Linked DNA regions of Homo sapiens. The protein of the gene in region 1 purifies or fractionates together with the protein of each later gene. This does not show direct contact. Each region holds a gene or a part of one and is shown on either strand. Other genes may lie near its edges.

The links.
Region 2: the proteins of AP3M2 (region 1) and AP3S1 purify together in Homo sapiens (affinity purification with mass spectrometry; 3 studies listed by BioGRID and IntAct, with this or other methods). This does not show direct contact.
Region 3: the proteins of AP3M2 (region 1) and AP3B1 purify together in Homo sapiens (affinity purification with mass spectrometry; 3 studies listed by BioGRID and IntAct, with this or other methods). This does not show direct contact.

What each region holds. Positions count from the first base shown.
Region 1 is NC_000008.11:42,148,691-42,156,088, forward strand, and holds the start of AP3M2 (AP-3 complex subunit mu-2), read left to right. Parts: upstream 1-4,372; 5' UTR 4,373-4,415; intron 4,416-5,787; exon of another isoform or gene 5,788-5,846; intron 5,847-5,925; 5' UTR 5,926-5,997; coding exon 5,998-6,270; intron 6,271-7,363; exon of another isoform or gene 7,364-7,398. UniProt on the Homo sapiens protein: Part of the AP-3 complex, an adaptor-related complex which is not clathrin-associated. The complex is associated with the Golgi region as well as more peripheral structures.
Region 2 is NC_000005.10:115,900,919-115,907,944, forward strand, and holds part of AP3S1 (AP-3 complex subunit sigma-1), read left to right. Parts: intron 1-1,966; coding exon 1,967-2,074; intron 2,075-5,902; coding exon of another isoform or gene 5,903-5,938; exon of another isoform or gene 5,939-5,943; intron 5,944-7,026. UniProt on the Homo sapiens protein: Part of the AP-3 complex, an adaptor-related complex which is not clathrin-associated. The complex is associated with the Golgi region as well as more peripheral structures.
Region 3 is NC_000005.10:78,221,689-78,228,714, reverse strand, and holds part of AP3B1 (AP-3 complex subunit beta-1), read left to right. Parts: intron 1-475; coding exon 476-571; intron 572-1,182; coding exon 1,183-1,343; intron 1,344-3,106; coding exon 3,107-3,173; intron 3,174-7,026. UniProt on the Homo sapiens protein: Subunit of non-clathrin- and clathrin-associated adaptor protein complex 3 (AP-3) that plays a role in protein sorting in the late-Golgi/trans-Golgi network (TGN) and/or endosomes.

The sequences.
Region 1 (7,398 bases):
TCTGGAAGGTGTCCACTTCTCTCTAATCCCTGCCTCATGGCTCCAGGCACTAGCTCTCTCCTAGGGATTACTGCAATTGTCTAAATAACCTCCCAGCCTCCAGGCTCAGCCTGTTACAGTCCATCCTGCACACATAGTCTTTCTGAAATGGAAATCTGAAAGTGTGCCACTCTCCTGCTTCACATTTCTTCAATGGGTTCCTGGGCTTAGAGGTAGGAAGTGTGGAATCTGAGCCATTCTGCTCAGATCTTCCAACGTCCTTGAATCACAGCTTTGCTGTTCGACCTTGGGCAGTTATTTAAGCTGTCTTTGCAGCTTCCTCATCTACGAAAAGGGGATCACAACGGTAATTCATTTTAGAGTAGTTGGGGGGATTAAATGATTTCAGATCCTCCTCTCTTATGTGAACTCTTAAATTTGGAGTGTCCCTGGAATCTGGTTCTCTTATCTCTCCACACTCCTTCCCTCGGTCATCTCAACAGGTCCTACTACTTTAAATATCCATATACTGAAAACACCCAAATTTATATCTCAAGCTCAGCCCACTCTCCTGAACCCTGGACTTATATGTCCAGCTGCCTTCTCAACATCTCCACTTGGATAGTTAATGGAGCTCACAGATATATTGATATACTTTGGATGTTTGTCCCCTCCAAATCTCATGTTGAAATGTGATCCCCAGTTTTGGAGGTGGGTCTAGCAGGTGTCATGGGGTTGGATCCCTCGTGAATGGCTTGGTGCCCTCCCCATGGTAATGAGTGAGTTCTCACTCTGTTGGTTTATGAGAGAGCTGGTTGTTTAAAGGAGCCTGGCACCTCCTCTCTCTCACTCCTGCTTTCACCATGCAACTGCCCGCTCCCCTTTCACCTTCTGCCATGAGTAAAAGCTTCCTGAGGCCTCACCAGAAGCTGAGCAGATGCTGGTGCCACGCTTGCATAGCCTACAGAACCATGAGCCAAATAAACCTCTTTTTTTTTAATATTATAAATTACCGAGTCTCAGGTATTCCTTTATAGCAAGCTTGTCCAGCCCAAGGCCCATAGGCTGCATGCGGCCCAGGATAGCTCTGAATGCAGCCCAACACAAACTCATAAACTCTCTTAAAACATTATCAGATTTGTGATTGCTTTTTTTTTTTTTTTGAGACGGAGTCTTGCCTTATTGCCCAGGCTGGAGTGCAGTGGCACAATCTTGGCTCACTGCAACTTCCACCTCCCAGGTTCAAGCAATTCTTTTGTCTCAGCCTTCCGAGTAGCTGGGATTACAGGTGTTCGCCACCACACCCGGCTAATTTTTGTATTTTTAGTAGAGACAGGGTTTCACCATGTTGGCCAGGCTGGTCTCGAACTCCTGACCTCAGGTGATCCACCTGCCTCAGCCTCCCAAAGTGCTGGAATTACAGGCATGAGCCACCGTGCTTGGCCTACCCATAGTCTTTCTAGTCTCAGCTGATGAAACTATCCTTCTCCATGCTGAAGCTCAGTGGCCCTCCCTTCTCTCTTGTTCTCACTCCCTGCATCCCATCCATCTGGAAATCCAGCTGGCTCCTCCTGGAGACTACACGCACAGTCCACCTCCTCCTCACCACCTCCATGGCTACAGCCTGGTCTGAGCTCCATCACCTCTCGCCTGGGTCACTGCAGCGGTCTCACTAGTCTTCTTGCACAGTCTTCTCAACCCAGATGACTGATAAATCAGATCCTATCACCCCTTTGTCCAAACCCTCCATGGGCTCTCTCTTTCACAACCATAATCTTTAAAAGAGCTTTCTAGCCCCTGTGTGATCAGGCCACCCACCCTGTAACCTTGTCTCCTCCTTTACCCTGCGCTCATTTCACTCCAGCCACACTGTCACCCTTCCTGCTCCAGAAACTCCCCAGGAGCATTCTGGCCTTACAGGCTTTGCAGTGCCTGTTCCCTTTGCTGGAATGCTCTCCCCCAAGATCTCCCTATAGTTAACTCTTCTGCCTTCTTCAAATCTTTGCACTAATGTCTCTTCTCAATGAGGCTTGTTCTCACTACTCTCTTAAAAACTGTAATTTGCCCTCCAATCCCATAACACTCCTGGTAGTTTTTTTTTATTGCACATGCCATCTTATAACCTACTATATACTTTACTTATGTATATTGATTATTATCTGTCTTTTCCCCACTAGAATATAAGCCTCACTAGGACAGGGTTTTTTTTTTTTTTTTTTTTTTTTTTTGAGACAGAGTCTCACTCTGTCGCCCAGGTTGGAGTGCAGTCGTGCGATCTTAGCTCACTGCAACCTCTGCCTCCTGGGTTCAAGCGATTCTCCCGTCTCAGCCTCCTGAGTAGCTGGGACCACAGGTACGTGCCATCACGCCTGGCTAATTTTTTAATTTTAGTAGAGACAGGGGTTCATCATGTTGGCCAGGCTGGTCTTGAACTCCTGACGTCAAGTGATCCGCCCACCTCAGCCTCCCAAAGTGTTGGGATTACAGGCGTAAGCCACCGCGCCCAGCTCCAAGAGATTTTTGTCTTTTGTTTACTGGTGTTATGTATCCAAGCACTGGAACAGTGCCTGGCGCATGGTAGGGCTCACTAAATATTTATGGAATGGTACTTACAAATTATAAAACACAGTGTATGGCACACAGTGTTTTATAAATATTAACATTTCCAAGGTTCACAACCACTAGGCTCCCTACTTACCTTTCCAGCCTGATCTCCCTGCGCTCTTCCTACCATTCCAGCTCAGCTATACTTAACTTGCTCATCTGCAGAGCCTTCCTTATGTACTTTTTTCTCTGTCCATCTATCCCTGCATTTGAGGGATCCTTTCTCATTTTCAGGTTTCAAGGTAGAGGGTCTTCCCTGACTCTAGGTCAGCCATCTCTACAGCACTCCTCCCACCCCCTATGCGTTCCTTATTCATCACACTGCATTGCAATCCCTTGCTTCTCATTTGTCTTTCCTGCTGGGCCCTGTAACCACAGGGACAATGCCTGTGACAGCAGTCATTGCAGCATCTCCAGCATCCAGCACAGGTCGATACGTGGGGGTTTTCGGCAAATGTTAATTCAGTGAATGAATGAGAAATTCTCACGGCAGCGACTGCATTTCTGCACCTTCGACACACATTATCACGTGTTATTGTATCTTGTGCTGTTCCTTAGGGCATAACAATTGCTAGCATTTTCTAACTCAATCCTCACAACTCTAGGAGGGAGGTACTATTCACGTTCTTATTTGAGAAGTGAGGAACTTGAAGTTTAGAGGAGTTACAGTTCTTTCTCACGGTCACTCAGGTTGTAAGTGTTGGAGCGGGTTCAAGCCAAGTCCTCTGGCACCAGCGTCCCTAAGCCCACCCAGAGTCATACCATTCTGCCATTTTGTTTCTGGCTTTTCTTCATAGTTCAAAGTCAGCCAACTACCTGCCCTTAGCAAGCGTGGAGAGAACCCCCCGCACCACCTCAGCAAAGGGCTTGTGTGTGGAGGAGCTGCCACCCACGCTCCATTTCACCAAAGTGACAACTAATGCTAGGGAGGGCGAACCTCTCATCGGCGAGGTCGCCACTGTCACCAGCGCCCACTGCTGGGTCCAAGGCTGGCGACGCCTCACCGCATCTGGGCTTGACTTCCTGCGTCACTGGGGCGACCCCTGGTCCTGACTTCCACTCCACGCCTTCGTGGATCAGGACGACTGGGACCACTCAAAAGCGTATCCAAGTCCTGAGGTCTCCAAAGCGGTGGAGAGACCCGCCCAGCCCCTCACTCCCCGGCTGGGAACTGAGATTGTGGAGGGTGGGCGCCCTGCCGCGGCCCAGTGGGGCTGGGGGCTTCCAGAGTCGGGGTCCAGGGCTCGGTGTCCGAGACTCCACCGCCAGCCGCGCCGACCTGACCCACGGCCGGGTACAACAGAGAAGGCGGCGCTTCCCAAAGGCACCGATGGAGTGCAGGGTAGCCGCCGCCCTCAGGATTTATCAACCGCGAGGCGCTGTCAGCAACTCGTGCCCGGAAGCCACCCCGCCCCGGCACACACATACTCCAGCGCCCCCTCCAGGCGCACTCCGCAAACACGCGAGCGCGGCGACCGCCCCAGCCCTTTGTGACTGGATGAGTGGGGCCGAGCAGCACGCACTGTCTTCGACCTCCAATCAGGACTCGGGGTCTCGGAGCTGTACCAATCGGAGATGACCGTGGCCTCAACAGGGCCAATCGGGGGACTCGAGCCCGACAACAGGGCAAGCCGCCAACAGCGATCAATCAGAGGGGAGGAGCGGCTCCCAGATACCCAATCAGCGGCCTTCAGGCGCAGATCGTGGGCGGAGCGGTAGCCAGGCCGCGGGCCGGCCAATCAGCGGGCGAGCGGCTGCCTCAGCGCGCGCGGCGGGCGGGGCGGGGCCTGTCCGCGCCTAGGAGCAGTGGGCGCTGAGAGCAGCAAGGCCAGGTGAGGAGTAGGGACGACCCCGAGCCTGGAGAGGGGGCAGGAGTGGGGGCGCGCGAGGGTCGGGGCGGGGTCTCAGGATGCAGCCGGGCGGCCTCTCAGGGCTGCGGACGCGGCGGGGAGAGGTGAGGGGCCGGGTTCAGAGTTCGGGGAGGGCGTCCTTCCCGGCGCCGCGGCTGCGGGCGGAGGGGACACTGTTGCCATGGCAGCGCACGTGCGCTCGCTGGCGCGGCCCGGCACCCCTGCGCTCTTCACCCCGGAACGCGCGTGCCCCTTCAGCCAGGCCCCTGCCCGCCTGCGCCCCGCGGCCTCCGTCGCCGCCGGCTCTGGGCCGGGGCCTGCGCAGGGACCGCCTGCCTAGGCCGCTGCCTCTCCCTCGCACCCCGGGCTGCCTGGCTGTCTCTCCCTCCTGCTGTCTCCTCCAGGCGGCGCTGGGCACCGCAGGCCTCTGCGTTTTGACCACCCGCGCCGGTTCGCGGAATGGCCACATCCTGGCGACTGGCACCAGAGAGATGCAACCGTCTGAGGGCCTTGGGGTGTCTGTCCCCCAGGGAAATTTTTTTTTTTTTTTGGAGGTGGAGGGGGCGGGGTTCTCCCTCTGTTGCCCGGGCTGATCTCGAACTCGTGAGCTCCAGCGGTCTGCCCGCGGAGGCCTCCCTAAGTACTGGGATCACAGGCGGGAGCCCCAAGGGATCTTTTTAAATGTCTTACTGCATTAACAAGTGCCTAAGGAGTGCTCAGAGAATAGCTCTGATTGGATGAATAAAGACCCCCAAGGGCAGCTTTCCATTCCTCCCACCAATTCTGGTGGGCAGAAATAGAAAGCAAACCACATATGTAATTGTACATGTTCTGGTAACCACTTTAAAATAATAAAACAGGTTAAATTAATTTTAATATATTTGATTTAACCCAGGATATCCAAAATGTTATTACAACATATAATCAATATTAAATTATTGGTAAGATATTTGAAATTTTTTTTTTCATGCAAAGCCTTTCAGATTTGTCGTGTGTCTTACACTTAACAGCACACCTCAGTCCGCACCAGCCACCTTTCAAGTGCTCGCTGGTCCCATAGTGGCTATCGTATTAAGCTGCGCATTTCTTGTGTATGTGTGAGCTGTTGCCAAAACATGACATCAAATTCAGTGTTCTTGGAAGCCCTCTTCAAAGAACACTGATTGTGTTGCAGTCAGGCAACGCAAAACATGAGGCACGGCCCTTTTCTTCAAGGAGTTTGCGGTTCGGTTGAGAAAATAGACACCCACAGATAAGTAGTATTTTAAATGGATGCAATTTGGGCGATAGTAAAGATAACTGGGAGTATATGATTGACAGTCAGATGACTGATCATTATCGTTTCGAATTCAAGGGAGGGCTATCTTCAGGCTCATGCAGGAGGGGAAGATTGGGCCTGGTCTTGAAAGATGGGTAAGTCTTGGACTGTTGGGAAAAGATGGGGAGGGCCTTTTGGTTGAATGGAACTGAATATCGCTGCTTTTGTTTTTAGAGTTGAAAACTTACAGAGTCCTGAGGCTTTCAGACTGAAAAAGGCTTTCTTCTGTCACTGACAATCGCCACCATGATCCATAGTCTTTTCTTGATCAACTCCTCTGGAGACATTTTCCTGGAGAAACATTGGAAAAGTGTGGTCAGCCGTTCTGTTTGTGATTACTTTTTTGAGGCGCAAGAGAGAGCTACTGAGGCAGAAAATGTGCCTCCGGTTATCCCTACCCCTCACCACTATCTCTTAAGTGTTTACCGCCACAAGATCTTTTTTGTGGCCGTGATCCAGACGGAGGTCCCCCCTCTGTTTGTCATTGAGTTTCTTCACCGAGTGGTGGACACATTTCAGGTTCGTGAATGTGGGAAAGTTCATATATGTAAACCGTAAAGTGTCTTTGTAGTCCTGTTTCCATTGTGTAAAGCCTCCATTAAGAAACTTAAAAAAAAAAATCAAAACTCTGGTATTACTCACTTCCTCTCCCATCTGATAAGATTCTGGTTTCTATTTATTGAATTGGCTGCATGCAAAATGACAAATGGAATACTTTTGAACCTCTTGCGTGGGAAAGTCATCCTATTTGCGATGACTATATATAGCCTTTCTAGCTCTGATTCTACTTTTTGCTCACAAATTAGAGTTTAGATTGTTTTTGCCTGGTGGTCTTGATCCTAACCATTGTTATCTGCATTGCTTTGAGTTGCATCAGAAAGTGATTGTATAAAGTTTTAGAAAAGAAAAAGTAGAAAAAGCTAAGGAATGCTTAATTTAACTCTCCCAGTCAGGGGTAACTCATGAACCTGTACTAGTTCTCAGGTTTGAGGTGGTTCTTTATAGTGAGAGAGTGGTACTGATGAGCTCTGCTTGCAAAGATGAGATTGGGAAATCTCATGTGCCTGTAAGAATTTAAGTGAGCCATTTTATGAGGCAGTTTTCATTTTAAGCTTTTTCTTCAGGAATAGATGTTAAGAACTTAGGGGGTGATGTCCAAGGGAGGTCAGTGATACCAGGACACGACACCATTTGCAGCACAGGAGTTCAGACAGCACCGGCCCTGGATTCACACAGAGGAACTTTCTCCCAAAAGAACCAATCAACTTCTAACTGTTGTGGTTATTTGCATAACTCAAATGAGAAGCGAGGGCCTTTTGGTTTAACTTCTGTGTCATATGAGGTCTGGAATGAGTCATATGAACACTGGAATTGTGGAATTGGAGAAGAGAATGAGGACCCACACACTATGATAAAAGTTAAAAAGCAAGTCAAAGAGTTCCTTCTCTTGTACTCATATCTGCACCACGTCTAGAACAACTTCCCTTCCCAAGAGAATTAAAATACATTTTTTGTTTTTCCCTGCAATACTCTGTAGTACTACTGTTCTGGAATTTCAGTTCTCATGCAACATACCGGCCCCTTTGCACAGTGAAAACGTAAGTATAAGTCCCAGTATGTGGAAGAACTAGAAGAACCCAGGAGTTG
Region 2 (7,026 bases), on another chromosome or scaffold:
GTTTTCCATATTTGCAGCTTGCTTCTCTGACAGAGATCAGTGAGAGATCTCATTATAAAAATATGTGTCTAATAATTAATGTTGATTCACTGTTTTAAATTTTTATATTTTTGTTTGTTTGCTCTTACCAACACAGTTTCATTTATCACTGTCATATGTATATCAGGCACCAGTCTCTTTTATGGTTTTCCTAACTTAATTTCTCATTCTTTCCTTCCTCTAACTTTCAATTCTTTATTTTCTTGCAGAACTGCGAAAATTAATGTATATAATATGTTCTCATTTGTGTAAATTAGATATGCATATACACACGTATAACAAGTATGTGCACAGCAAGTTTTCTAGGATACCTAAGATATAGCTAGCTGAGTAGCTTTGGATAAAGGGACCTAAAAACGGATGCAGAGTGTGGTAGAGACTATTGTTGTTCATACATAAGTTTCTGTATGAACTTTTAGTCATTTGCCTATATTCTTTTTTTTTTTTTTTTTTTTTAAGTTACGGTAGTTTTCAAAACACTGTCATGTCTGGTTTGGTTTGGTTGGCTAGGAAGATTAATTTATATAAATTTGTCTTCAGAATTTGTGCATGAGGTGTCCATGCTTCCAAAATGAAAAATAGTAAATAATGATGACTTTTTTTTTTTTTTTAATTGAGGCAGGGTCTCACTCTGTTGCCCATGCTAGAGTGCAGTAGTGTGATTTCAGCTCACTGCACCCTCCACTTCCCGGGCTCAGGCAGTCCTCCTGGGTCAGCCTCCCGAGTAGCTGGAAGTACAGACGTGAGGCACTATGCCTGGCTAATTGTCTGCATTTTTTGTAAAGGCAGGGTTTTGCCATATTGCCAGTGATCTGTCCACCTTGTCCTCCCAAAGTGTTGGGATTACAGGTGTGAGCCACCATACCCAGCCTCCAGGGATATTTTTTAAATTATGAATAAATTTGCGTGAAATCTTACAAAGAAATTTAAATTGAGTAATACATATTTAACTCCTAAAAAGAGTTTGTTGAAAAAAAAATTACCGTATAATACCTAGTGGTTCTATGCTAAGCACTTACATAAATTATTTATTTAATTGTTATGGTAATCCTATGAGGTGCCTATATTATTTCTGTCTCTATTTCGTAAATAAGGTAACAGACTCAGAGAGCTGAAGTAACTGCTCAAGGGCTACAAGTAATAAGTGGTAGAGTCTGTATTCATACTTATCTAATTTTGGAGTCTCCATTTCTAACCTTACCACATTATTTTAAAAAAATTATAGCAGAATAGATTCTTCTGTGAAATGTAATTCAGTTCTGAATTGTTGATTTTTTGATCCAATAATACCTTATGAAAAGACAGAAGTTATATTTTTACTCCCCAATGGAAGACATCATTTTTAGTCATTGTAAGATGTATTTATTAGAAGAAATCTGAATATTACATGTGTAGAGGATTTGGGGGTAAAAACACTATTAAAGTACCCACAATTTAAAAAATTCTACCTTTTTCCAATCTAGAGCCTGTTAGAAGTACTGTACTACATTGCTTCATTAAGTACCATGAGTGTAAAATAATAACCTAATTATTGTTGGCTAAGAATCTGGCATAAAAGGCTCTTATAAATCATATTTTAGTATTAAACTTCACATAATAATAATAATAATGGTAGTTAATATTTACTAGTCATTTACTTTGTTTTGAGTACTGCATTGGATTACCTTGCTTATTCCTTTCAACAGTCCTATGAAGGTAGTACTATTGTTTTTGTTTTATAGCCCATTAAGCTCAGACTTAAGGAGGTTATATAACTGCCTAGGGCTTCACAGTAGTGATGAAAGTGGATTATGAGCCCTTACTCCAAGTTGTTTTTACCACTCATACTTTTAACATAGACAAAGTGGTATTTGAAACAAAAAGTGAATCATGAAACTTCTTTTTAGTGAATTTTCTTTATGGGTATATATTCTTTTATTCCCTTTAGGTTCACAATATTCTTGCAGAAATGGTGATGGGGGGAATGGTATTGGAGACAAATATGAATGAGATTGTTACACAAATTGATGCACAAAATAAGCTGGAAAAATCTGAGGTAAGAATGGAAAATGCTGTAGTTAAGAAGGTTCTAAGCATGATGACAGATTACGCATGATTTGTAGTTTTCACTGTTTGTCCTTCAGTATCACCCTTTAGGTTCAGCCGTTATGCTTATTCAGTTTTTAAAAAATGGAATATACACGTAGTATGCTAAAGGTTCTGTGACTGTTCTCTACCCAACAGCTTTGTGTATTCTTCTTTTAGCCACAGTCATAGCTGCCTTGGGTAATAAGCACAATTCCAAATCTTATTGCCTAAAAGAATTATCTGAATAATGGAATCTAATATTTGCTTTGTAAAACTTCAGTCGGTAATTATCAAGGAAATCTTAGAACTAATATTTTAAAGATATATAAATTTTGTGTTACAAAACTACTTCTGGAAAGGGAAAGGACAGGAAATGGAATTCTTACAGGGAAGTAAGTAATGTTTCAAGTTATTAATAAATGCAAAATAAATATTTTGAATGTTTGAGTTCACATTCAAAAAAGAAATTCAATACCTTAATCTTTTAATTCTAAATCTTTCCCTAAGATTTCACTGACAAGTTAGTTAAGTCACATATTTTAGACATTAGTACATATATATCCATGGTCTTTATTGCATTCTATAAGATCGGTTTGTTATACTTAGCTAACTTTCTGCTGTTAGATTCAACCTTAGATGGGATAAATGAGGAACAGCCAGCACTTTAGCATTGTATAAAACCCTACTTCAGAATTGTAGTGACTCTTCCCTCAAGCACTAGTCTGAATATCAGTAGCAGGTGCTGTAGCTGAGCCACCTGGGTTCACATTATTTTGGTTGTTTATTACCCTAGCAGAGGTTTAGAAAGATCAGTAGTTTTATCATTTGAGTTCAGGAGTTCGAGACTAGCCTGGCCAACATGGTGAAACCCCATCTCTACTAAAAAAATAAAAATAAAAAATAAATAAATTAGCTGGGCACGTAGAGCGCACCTGTAATCCCAGCTACTCGGGAGGCTGAGGCACAAGAATCACTTGAACCCCGGAGGTGGAGGTTGCAGTGAGCCGAGATCACATCACTGCACTCCTGGGCAACAGAGTAAAACTTCATCTCAAAAAAAAAAAGAAAGATCAATAATTTTGATATCTCATTCACCACCCAACTTGTTTGAGGATACTCTTACATTTGGTATTTGCAGTCATAACTCAGATTGGAAAAAACAGACTTTATTTTTATAATTATTAGTGTTAAGCTCAGATGTTTCGTTGATTTAAAGTAAATATTACTTTGAAAGCATCAAGGTTTTAAAAATACACTGGCATTAATTTACAACAGGTGAGTTCTGAAAAATTTTACCTTGTTGGCATTTTAAAGGATCAGTTTAACTCAATTCAATTCTGTGTCCATTTTAATTGAAGAAAACACAGGGTGAAGAATAAATCTCAAATCTAGAAACAGTTGAAGCTTATAAAACATTTTCCAGTGTTCTCTTTTAAATTTAAAATAGTCTTGCATTTTTCTTTATCTCAATTTCCCATTCCTGTTGGTTTCCCAAAGGAGAAGTTTATAGTGGTGATTTAGAGCTAAGATTATCTTAACTAACTATATGTTTTGTTTGTCCTATAGCCAATTTTTAAAATATTGGCTTTTGAAAGTGGAAAACATAAATTAGGTTAATAGAGAAAATTTTGTTTTAGGACAAGGAAAAAGACTCATAATTTAATTTAGTATAACTGACTTGCAATATATTATTTAGTAAAGAAAAGATTATTATAAACCCTGAGCTATTGCTTTTAAAGTCTTAAAAGAACTTAAAATGTGTGTCATTTGTTAAACATTGCTTTGCAAAACTGTATGGTTATAGATTTTAAATGCCAAGGGACAAACAGTGATGCAATCCTTTAATAACTGGTATAAATGAATGAGTATCTAGTAATTTGTGAATTCTGCATAATCATCTGTAAAAAATATTGACCAGTTGTCTGGAATTTTCACCTTTCTAGGTAGTTAACTCCTTTTCATTGGTGGTGGTCCTTCTTTTTCTTCTGCTACTTAAGACATTTATGCCTGGTGTTCCATTATTGGAATGCTAAGCTTGTGGGAGTTATTTATATCCTACTGCTCAAGGTCATCCCCAAGGTCTGATTTTTCACAAAAAAAAGTTTGCAACCTCCGGCATAAATGGGTTAATGTGCTATATTGACAAAAGTTATGAAGGACCTATAATTATTGCATAATGGGTATTTGCTTTTTGATTGTTGAATAAAACTTCGTTAATGAGGCAATTTTTCTTATCTATAAAGAGCAGTAAAATGCGTAATTTACATTTCAATGGAAATAGTTATAAGAATACTATAACTTAAAATCTATTCACAGAAATAATGCTATTTAAAATAGTTTAGAATACTGGTGATTACTTCTATTATTCATTCCCTGATCATCTCGCATCATACATAATTGTTATCTGGTACCAAATTAGTTTCTCTTCTTTTGTCTTTTACAAGAAAGTATGTTTTAAGTCTGATTGGGGATAAACTACAAAATTATATATTTTCTATACATGTAACGTCTGCTAATATTTTAGTTATGAAATCGGATTTCAAGTCAAAGTGAGGCCATTTAGCCCTGATCATCTTTTTAAAACAGCACTGAAAATTATGATGACTAATTTTTCGTAGCTTTTGTATATTTTAAGTATGTTTGAAAGGCTTCTAGCTTTATTCCAGCTAGAATGTCAAAAGCTTTCATATGTTTCATGTCCATGTTACTTCAATTGGTTAAATTTACCAGAGATATTACTCTGCAGAATAATCCAAAATTACTTGAAACAAAGTATAAACTTTTCCTAATCTTCTTACTAAATTTCAGTTAAAATGTATTATATAAGGACAAACTTAATGACTTGTTTGGCTGGGCGCAGTGGCTCACGCCTGTAATCCCAGCACTTTGGGATCACTCAGGTGATCTGCTCACCTGAGGTCAGGAGTTTGAGACCAGCCTGGCAAATATGGTGAAATCCCGTCTCTACTAAAAATACAAAAAAATTATCCAGGCATGGTGGCACTTGCCTGTAATCCTAGTTGCTCTGGAGCCTGACGCGCAAGAATCGCCCGATTCCGGGAGGCGGAGGTTGCAGTGAGCTGATATTGCACCACTGCACTCCAGCCTGCGTGACAGAGTAAGACTCCGTCTCAAAAACAAACACACAAAAAAAGACTTGTTTAAAATCGAGAATGTCATGATTGATGAAAAGAACTGGTTATCAATATTTTTAAAAATTATTTAAGTAATATCTTAGGAACATCATTTATATTTAAAAATCAGTCTGGGTATAATTGAGACACAGCTTTTTAAACATAACATGCATTTATCTAGGGGCCTTTGTCAGAAATCAGAGCTTTTATTATGTTGGTCTAAAGTTAGTACATTTCTGGTAATGGAAAAAAGTGAACCAGTTTAATTCCCAATACCTAGACAGGTGGAAGCAAAGCTCTGCCAGATCCTGAAAGAGAGAAGCAAAGATATACTCTGAATGTATTTCCATCTATTCTATTTTGATAGAAAAATGGTTTACTATAACATTGGAATATTGGGAGAGGAGGGTTTAAGCTGGGAGGTTGATGGGATTCGGGGGAAGTATAAGAGGCACTCAGGAACCTGCCTAAGAATAAAAGGACTCCCTGGGGGTGGAGGTAGAGGGGTGGGGTTGGGGAGATCTGTTAGCTTTTATGTATTTCATGTTATTCTTAAGATGGATAAATGGGTCTGAATTTAGTCACTACTTTTTGAAAGTCAGTCCTCTTTTTTTTCCGAACATCCTGATCTTTCTAGCTCTTTCCATTCTTCTCTCTTACAGACCTTTATCTTTCAGTCTCCCAGACAGGACAGGTAGACAAGGTATTGCTGACTTTGAGAAATATGTACTATAACAAAGGGAAAGCAAAATGATGTCAAAGGCAATTAATTATTTAGGCCAGACTCAAAAATTCTTTGTGTTAATAAACCCATATAGTCCCTGTAGCCTATTTTCCATTCTAGTTTCTCCTTGTAGTTTCTTCATCTTTTATTGGACTTAGTGTATTTTACTAGTATATCATTGATGTCATGTTTGTTCTGTTTTGTCTGCCTGCATTGTAAAAGGAAAGTTTAAATTTTTTTTAAACACTTGTCATCTAACTGACAAATTGCATTTGCAGAAGTGACAATTTACTTTGTATATAAAAACGTAAAATTTATTTTGAGCATCATATAGCAGAACCAATCTTAATTTAACTCTCACAGATTTGTTTTTTTTCCATCTCTAAATTAGGATTCTAACATAAAATTGCCTGCTGGGTTTTGGAAGCTGTGAATTTAAAAACCAAAAGCTGAACCTTCAGAGTTTTGCATACAAAATGGGAAGCAGTGAAGGCTTAGAATAGTGACTGTTAAATAGTACTTTTTCCCCTCAAATGGTTTTCAGTTCCAAAGTCTTAACAGAATTGCTTTTACAGTTTTGACCTGCAGGTGCATATTAACAGTGGCCAACAGAAAATAAGATCAGAAATCTTATAAAACTTGACTGTATTTCAAACTAGAATGCTCGAAAAATGGAATTACCAAATTACCAAATCACCAAAATACAATGGGTTTTCATTGTAGCAAACCTTCTGACATCCAAACATGTCATAATCAGAATCAATAAAAATATATTAATGTTTTAGTATTGAATTAAAAACCCTGAATATTTTTGCAAAGCGTATTGGCAAATATTGGAAATATTTTTAATAGACCTCTAGTTTTACAAAACTAATTTTTCTTCTGATATTTCCTGTACGTTTTTTCACACCATAAATTAACTGTGTGAATTACTTTTTTAAAAGTTCCATGTACGTGGTGATGAGCAACTATTTTGTGTGAAACCATGTAAGCAAAAGAAATGTTTATAAGGTCTCTGATTGAAAATTTCAAAATAAAAGTAATTTATTGAGTCCTATGGAG
Region 3 (7,026 bases), on another chromosome or scaffold:
AATTCTTTCTCTTATTATTTTTTAAAGAGGTAGGGTCTCTCTGTGTTGCCCAGGATAGCCTCTAACTCCTGGGCTCAAGTGATCCTCCTGCCTCAGCCTCCTGTGTAGCTGGGACTACAAGCATGTACGCCATGCCTGGCTTCTTTCTTTTATTTTTATCCCTCATTTTGAAAATATTTTTACAATTTAGTTAATATTCTTATATGAGATCTGCTCAGGGATTTTTTATTCCCTTCAAGAGGAAGGGACACTTTGATAGGCTATTGCTATTGTGAACTGGACTATTAAAATGCTTACTTTAAAAGCTTTTCCTGTTGTACTTATTATCCCACAAAATATTATTTTTATTTTACAATCTAACATGTGACCAGATTCAGTTATTTACTTGAGAAGAATTGAGCATGGATTTTGGTATAGCAAATACTGAGTTTTAAATTTTCACTCTGGTTATGAATAAATGATTTTTTTTTAACAGATCAAGAAGTTGGTATATGTTTACCTGGTTCGATATGCTGAAGAACAGCAGGATCTTGCACTCCTGTCCATAAGCACTTTTCAGCGAGCTCTGAAGGTAAATAATGGAGTGAGTAGGCAAATAGCTACAAGGTTTCTGCAGAGTTGAAAGTGTGTCAGTTAAAGAAGTGGAGCGATAATCCACTAAATAGCACAGTAGTGTCTTGAAAGAGTTAAAAGCCTCCTATAGTGCCTACTCAGTACACTTAGAAAATAATTTATACAACCAACTGAAACCTTGCTGTATATGTTACAGCTTCTGTATGTTTGTTTATATTCAATATAATTATTTTCATGCTTCAAAGAGCTGTTTATCATTATACTAGTTGTTGAAAGTACGCAAAAGGGGTTATAAGACATTTTTAAACATGAAATTGATGACCTGCAGCATTTTATTATTATGAAAGTATAAAAACCCAGCATATTTAGTAATAAATGACCAACTAGAATTATAACTATTACTTTTCTTTAAAACATTATTAAAGAAGTAAACATTTATGTCTGTCTTTTTTTCCCATTCCTATATACTAATTGTTCATTTTAAATTAAGTAGCTTTCTTTTGCTATTGTCATATTACACCCTTTAAGCACCTATTAACTGTGTCTGAAAGATATGTTTAAAATATTGTAAAGTTGAAATTTTGGTGAATATTTTTGCACTATTTTTAGGACCCAAACCAACTAATTCGTGCAAGCGCTTTGAGAGTTCTGTCAAGTATTAGAGTGCCAATTATTGTACCTATCATGATGCTTGCTATTAAGGAAGCTTCTGCTGACTTATCACCATATGTTAGGAAGAATGCAGCCCATGCAATACAAAAATTATACAGGTAGGTGCATTGTTAACAATATACCAAAGATCTCTGATGTTACATGGAATGTTATAGACCACAGAGGCTTGTTTTATTCGCTCTTTTAGGTAGGCTGCTCTTACACTAAGTAAATCCAGTGACTGTATGATGGTATTTCCCCCTGCTGCAAATGTTCCTTACACATCTTTAATTTCGTTTTGGCTATAGAGACCCTATGCAGGTTTTTATTTGTGAGGCTGTTAGAGCCTGTGATAATTTATAGATTTTATAACTTAAGAATAATCAGAATTTGAATTCTCATTTATATAGTCTATCTCATGTACACATATGCTTGTATTATTAGAAAATTGAGATTTTTTTTTCCTGTTTAGGGTAGAATCTTAAGTGTCTGATCCTCTCAACTCACTTATATGTGTTTTCCTTTCTTCCATCTTTGTTCCTGCTGCTCCCTTCGTTGTCTAATTCTTTTCCAGAGCTATTTTATTAAGTAATTTTAAAAAGTGTAGTGATTTGAAATATAGTGTGCTATACCATATCTGTGTGATATTTTAGAAATGTTATGCAATATTATACAATGCCCTGATCTCTGTGGAAAATTTACTGTCCAAATAGAATTGTCTACAACAATTTGGTATTATTTTCAGCTATCATTTATTCCTCAAGCTTTTTGAGACTCTCTTCTGTTTCTGGTGTTGTATTCACAGTATTGTGCTATGTGTATTTAGATGTATGAAAACAGTAGAGGATGTGGCACTTAATTATGAATAGCATATCATGTATTTGAGGAAGAAGATCAAAGACATACCAAATAATTAAAGGCAATCTATAATGAATAAGATATTAGCACTTGATATATATGTATATACAAAGGTACACTAGCAATGTCTTTGATAGGACAGGGACCAGAGATGATCATATTTTGTTACCGGAAAGTAAAGATGTAATGAGATGGGATTGGTAGTGAAATACTGCTTTGAGAAGGAAGACTTAAGCTGAAATTTGAAAGAATTAAAAAGTTTGTCCAGATAATTATAATGTTTAGTAATAAATGTGTATGTTTGTAGAAAGTGAAACCTCATATTCCTATGTTAACTGCCAGACAAGGTTTTATCATGCTTCTCACTCACCTTTTCTCCTTAGAAACTTATGGGATAAGATCCATGCTCACTCTAACGGCTTAAAAGTCCTTCTATCATTGGGCACCAGTATATTCCAGCCTCAATGCTTGCCTCTCCTTGCCTTGAGCTTATAGTCTGTTAGTATTCTATCTCAAATGTTTTAAGCTTATTACTACCTCTTATTTTTCCTAGTTTTAGTTGGCAGATTTTATAATGCATGTCTCTATCAGTGAACTAGTATGATATAAAATTCTTATTTGGAAATTCTCCATATTTGTTTTTGGGAAGTATGTATGCATAGTAAAATAATGACTGCTATCTAGTTATTTTTTTCCTCCCAGTTGAAAAGAGTTTGTGGTTTATCTACTTACAGTCGCTTTCTTGAAGTTTTCCAACTCTTTTAGAAGTGAACTTGTTCTTTCAGTACTATCTTAACTAAACCATTGATATCTGGTTTAGTTAATATGAACAATATTAGAGGGAAAGATGAGGACACATTCATGAGAAAAACCATCCCATTTTATTTGTTTTTCTTTATTTCTAACTTATAATTCTTGCTCTCCTTTCCCTCTTTAAAAATTTCTCAACATCCTTGAATTGGTGAGCATCATGTAAAGCTAGAATTAAAGGGAAAAATTAATATGTTATTTTTGTATTTTTTAGCCTTGATCCAGAGCAGAAGGAAATGTTAATTGAAGTAATTGAAAAACTTCTGAAAGATAAAAGCACAGTAAGTAATGTCTTTTTACGTCTTTGACATAAAAATGTACTTTATTTACATAGTATCATTTACCATTATATATTTTATATAGTTGTATTTATTGATTTCAAAATGGTATAAATATTAATGGCACACAGGACTATTTTTAAAGAACAAAAATTTTCATGTAATGAGAAAGACTGCATTTGGAGTTTTAGATCGTTATGTGTTTCTTCATCAGAATCTGAAAAAAGGCAAGTTGAGAAAAAAATCTTTAACCTGTGGCTAAGTGGTTAACATGGTAAGATCAAGGAATAGAGGTGACCTATGGGGGATGTGAGTTACTAGTGTACTAGTATCTTAGATGGGGCTTTTGTACCCACTTTATATTTCTCAAAACTACTGAGGAAAAGGATTCCAGCTCATCTTAGGATGCTATCATCAGGGAGTATGTACTATCTATGCATGGCAGCTATCTAATACAGTAGGCAGTAGCCCTGTGTAGCTGTAACTATTGGTTTATGGCTTAGCATTTGATCTATCCTGGATAATGTTCAATAAACATTTGATTAGAATGTGTATTCTGCTGTTGTTGAGTGGAGTGTTCTATAGATATCTGTTTTTTAGTGTTGTTCAAATCTTCTACTTTGCTGATCTTATGCCTACTTGTTCTATTCATTATTGAAAACAGGGTATTGAAGTCTCTTTAATTCTGTTAGTGTTTGCTTCATCTATTTAGGAGATTGGATGTTTGGTGCATGTATGTTTATAATTTTTTTAATCTTCCTTTTGTCATTGTAAAATGTTCCTCTTTATCTCTAGTAACATTTTTTTGTTTTAATGTCTGTTTTGCCTGTTATAAATACTACTATTCTAGCTTTTTTATGGTTGCTGTTTCCATTATATATCTTTTTCCATCCTTTTACTTTCAGCCTGTTTATATTTTTGCATCTATTGTATGTCTCCATAGACAGCATATAGTTGGCTCTTGTCTTTTTATCCAGTTTGCCAATGTGTGCCTTTAATTGGAATGTTTAATCCATTCACACTTATTGTTGTTATTAATATAGTTGGATTTTAAGCTGTCATTTTACTTGCTTTTATATGTTTCATGCCTTTTTTGTTCCTTATTTCTCCTTTATTGCTTTTTCTTAGATTAAGTGAATATGTTCTAGTGAACATTTTAATTCTTTTCATGGTTTTTTTACTATATATTTTTGAAAATATTGTCTTATACATGGAGATTATACTTGTAGTTTCATTCCTAGACCATTTAGTAAATTTCTGTTAGTCTGTAGTGTACCAGAAATCATTATTGCATTTCTTCTATGCATAGTTGGTATAACGTAGGAGGTAACTAAATATAGATTGATTATAAATGAAGATAGAGAAAAGAAATTTGATTCCTTTTTGTCTTCTGTATGACAGGCATGCTATCTGCCAGATATGAAGTCAATATTATTAATATTATGGTTAACTTGATTTTAATAATTTAAAAAAATACTTAGTGCTTTTCTATTATAAGTGCAAGAGATTGGCTAAGTACCATGGAGAGTAGTAAGATCTACAAGAAGCAGATCTGTCATTTTAATGAGTTTTACCATCATTTCTGCTACATTATAGACTAAGAGAAATTCTTTGGATGGCCTGGGAATGAACTCTCTCTGTATAATATGTGCATGTCTTCCCAGACAGGATACAGCATATCATAGGTAAAAACAATAGCGTTTGAATCAGATAGAACTGGCTTAATGTCTGAGCGTCTGCCACATAGTATATGTACCAATTCTTTATGAGTTTTAGGCTCCAGATTTGTAGGGTTTATAATATCTAATTTATAAATTTGCTGTTTGTGTCGAGAGAAAGAACTATTGTATATAAAACCCTCAGCACAGTGCCTAACACCACATGGGATGTGATTAAAAATTCCAAATAAGAAATAAGTACTCAAAAAGATGTAAAGATACAATATCTGTGTAAAATTGGAATGTCTGTTTCCAAAATACACCAGAAAGTAAAAAATATTGAATACTTGTTCATCACAGGTATTTAATATTTGTTGAATGACTGTTGAATTAATTTGTTACATTCTTGGTGATAGTAATTAAGTGTGTAGTATCGTTTTTAATGTCTCCCTCACCCCCCTGCAGTGGTTTCATGCTCAGTGTTCATAGGTAGATTCTTTGGGGGCTTTGGTGGCCTACCCTTTGTGAGGCACTCATTTTTCCTAAAGTGTTATATACTATATGTTTATTTTTTTTAATTAAGAATACATATTTCTTTTTCTGTCTATAGTAAAAAACAAAGTTTTTACTGACACCTGTAATTCTGGTGGTATAGCACAGAGTTCCTTCCAGCCTCCTTCCTTTTTATATTTGAAACTGCCTATTCAACATTAAGAAATGTGGCTCTGGCCACGCACCATTGTTCATGCCTGTAATCCTAGCACTTTGGGAGGCCAAGGTGGATGGATTGCTTGAGTCCAGGAGTTCGAGACCATCCTGGGCAACATGGTGAAACCTTGTCTCTACAAAAAAAAAAAAAGAAACAAACAAACAAACAAAAAAACAAGAAACAGGGCTCCTATTTCCACAATCTGTTTACATTTTTGCTGAGTCTCAGAATGCAGAGAAACTATTGCTTCAGAATTGCTAGCACTGTACCTCTGTGGGGTATACAGTAGCATGGGGCCTAATAATTAGAGTTAAATATTTAATTAGAGTTAAATATTAGTTTAGAGTTGTTTTTGTCTTTAATCTTTTTTTTAATGTATGGTAAATCAAAATTGCTTCAACTATTTATATCTTTGAACTCGTTGTGTTGGTATGTAAGAAAGCTATTGATTTTTTTTGAGTGATAAATTTTATATTCTGCTTTTTTACTGAATTCTTCTATTGTTTGAGTTAATTTTCTCATTCATCCTCCTTGGGTTTTTTTTTGCATGACAAAGAGTCTTTACTTTTAAATGATTATCAGTACACCAAGTAGTAACATGTAACAAGTTCTTGAATTCTGTCCTCTTTGATTAAGTAACTAAAACTGGCCCAAACAATTATACTAGTGTTCATTGTTCTAACCACTAGCAGGAATGGACTACCAGATATTGCAGAAAAAGGCCAAGACTTCACCCCTCTTCTGCCTAAACTGCTTCCAGATGGTTCTCTTCTCCTGGGTCTCCTCTACTTTAATGCTGCAGCTGCCTTGGGATCGCAGGGCAGCAGCCTCCTTGGCCTTGAACTCTTTCTCCCTCTGCAGGCAATATTGTTCAATTTCACCTTGAACTGCTGCTTTGGCCTGCTTCTCCCTCCGGTTCTTTCACTGCAGGTCTCAGACACCCTTTTCAGCAACCTGCAGCAGCTACTGGATCCCCTGAGACTGACTGGCCATGACAGCACCAACTCTGAGGCAGAAGCAAGCAGCCTAAATCTCTCTCTCTTTTTTTTTTTAGAGAATGAATCATATCTGCAAATAGAGATGTTTTACTTCCTCTTTTTCAGTTCCTAGAACTCTAATTTCTCTTGCCTAATTATATTGTTTAGTGCCATCACTACAGTTGTGTTCAATAGTAGTGGAGATGGTGGGCATTCTTGCCTTGTTTCAGTCTAAAGGAAATGCTTACATTGTGTTTGCATTAAGAAAGATGCTGGCCCTGAAGATTTTATCTTTGAAATATAGTACTTTTGCAAGGTACTTCAGGATTACTTGATATGGGTCAATTGTTTTGCCTTGGTACTCAGTGAGTCCTTTCAAAATGTAGATTCAGAATTTTTATTATCTCTGGCAAAGTGTTTTTTTTTAAGATTATAATTTTAAATATTAATTCTGTTATTTTTTTTCTTTTTCAGGGATTCCTATTTTATGCACATTGGATCTTCTTTGCCTG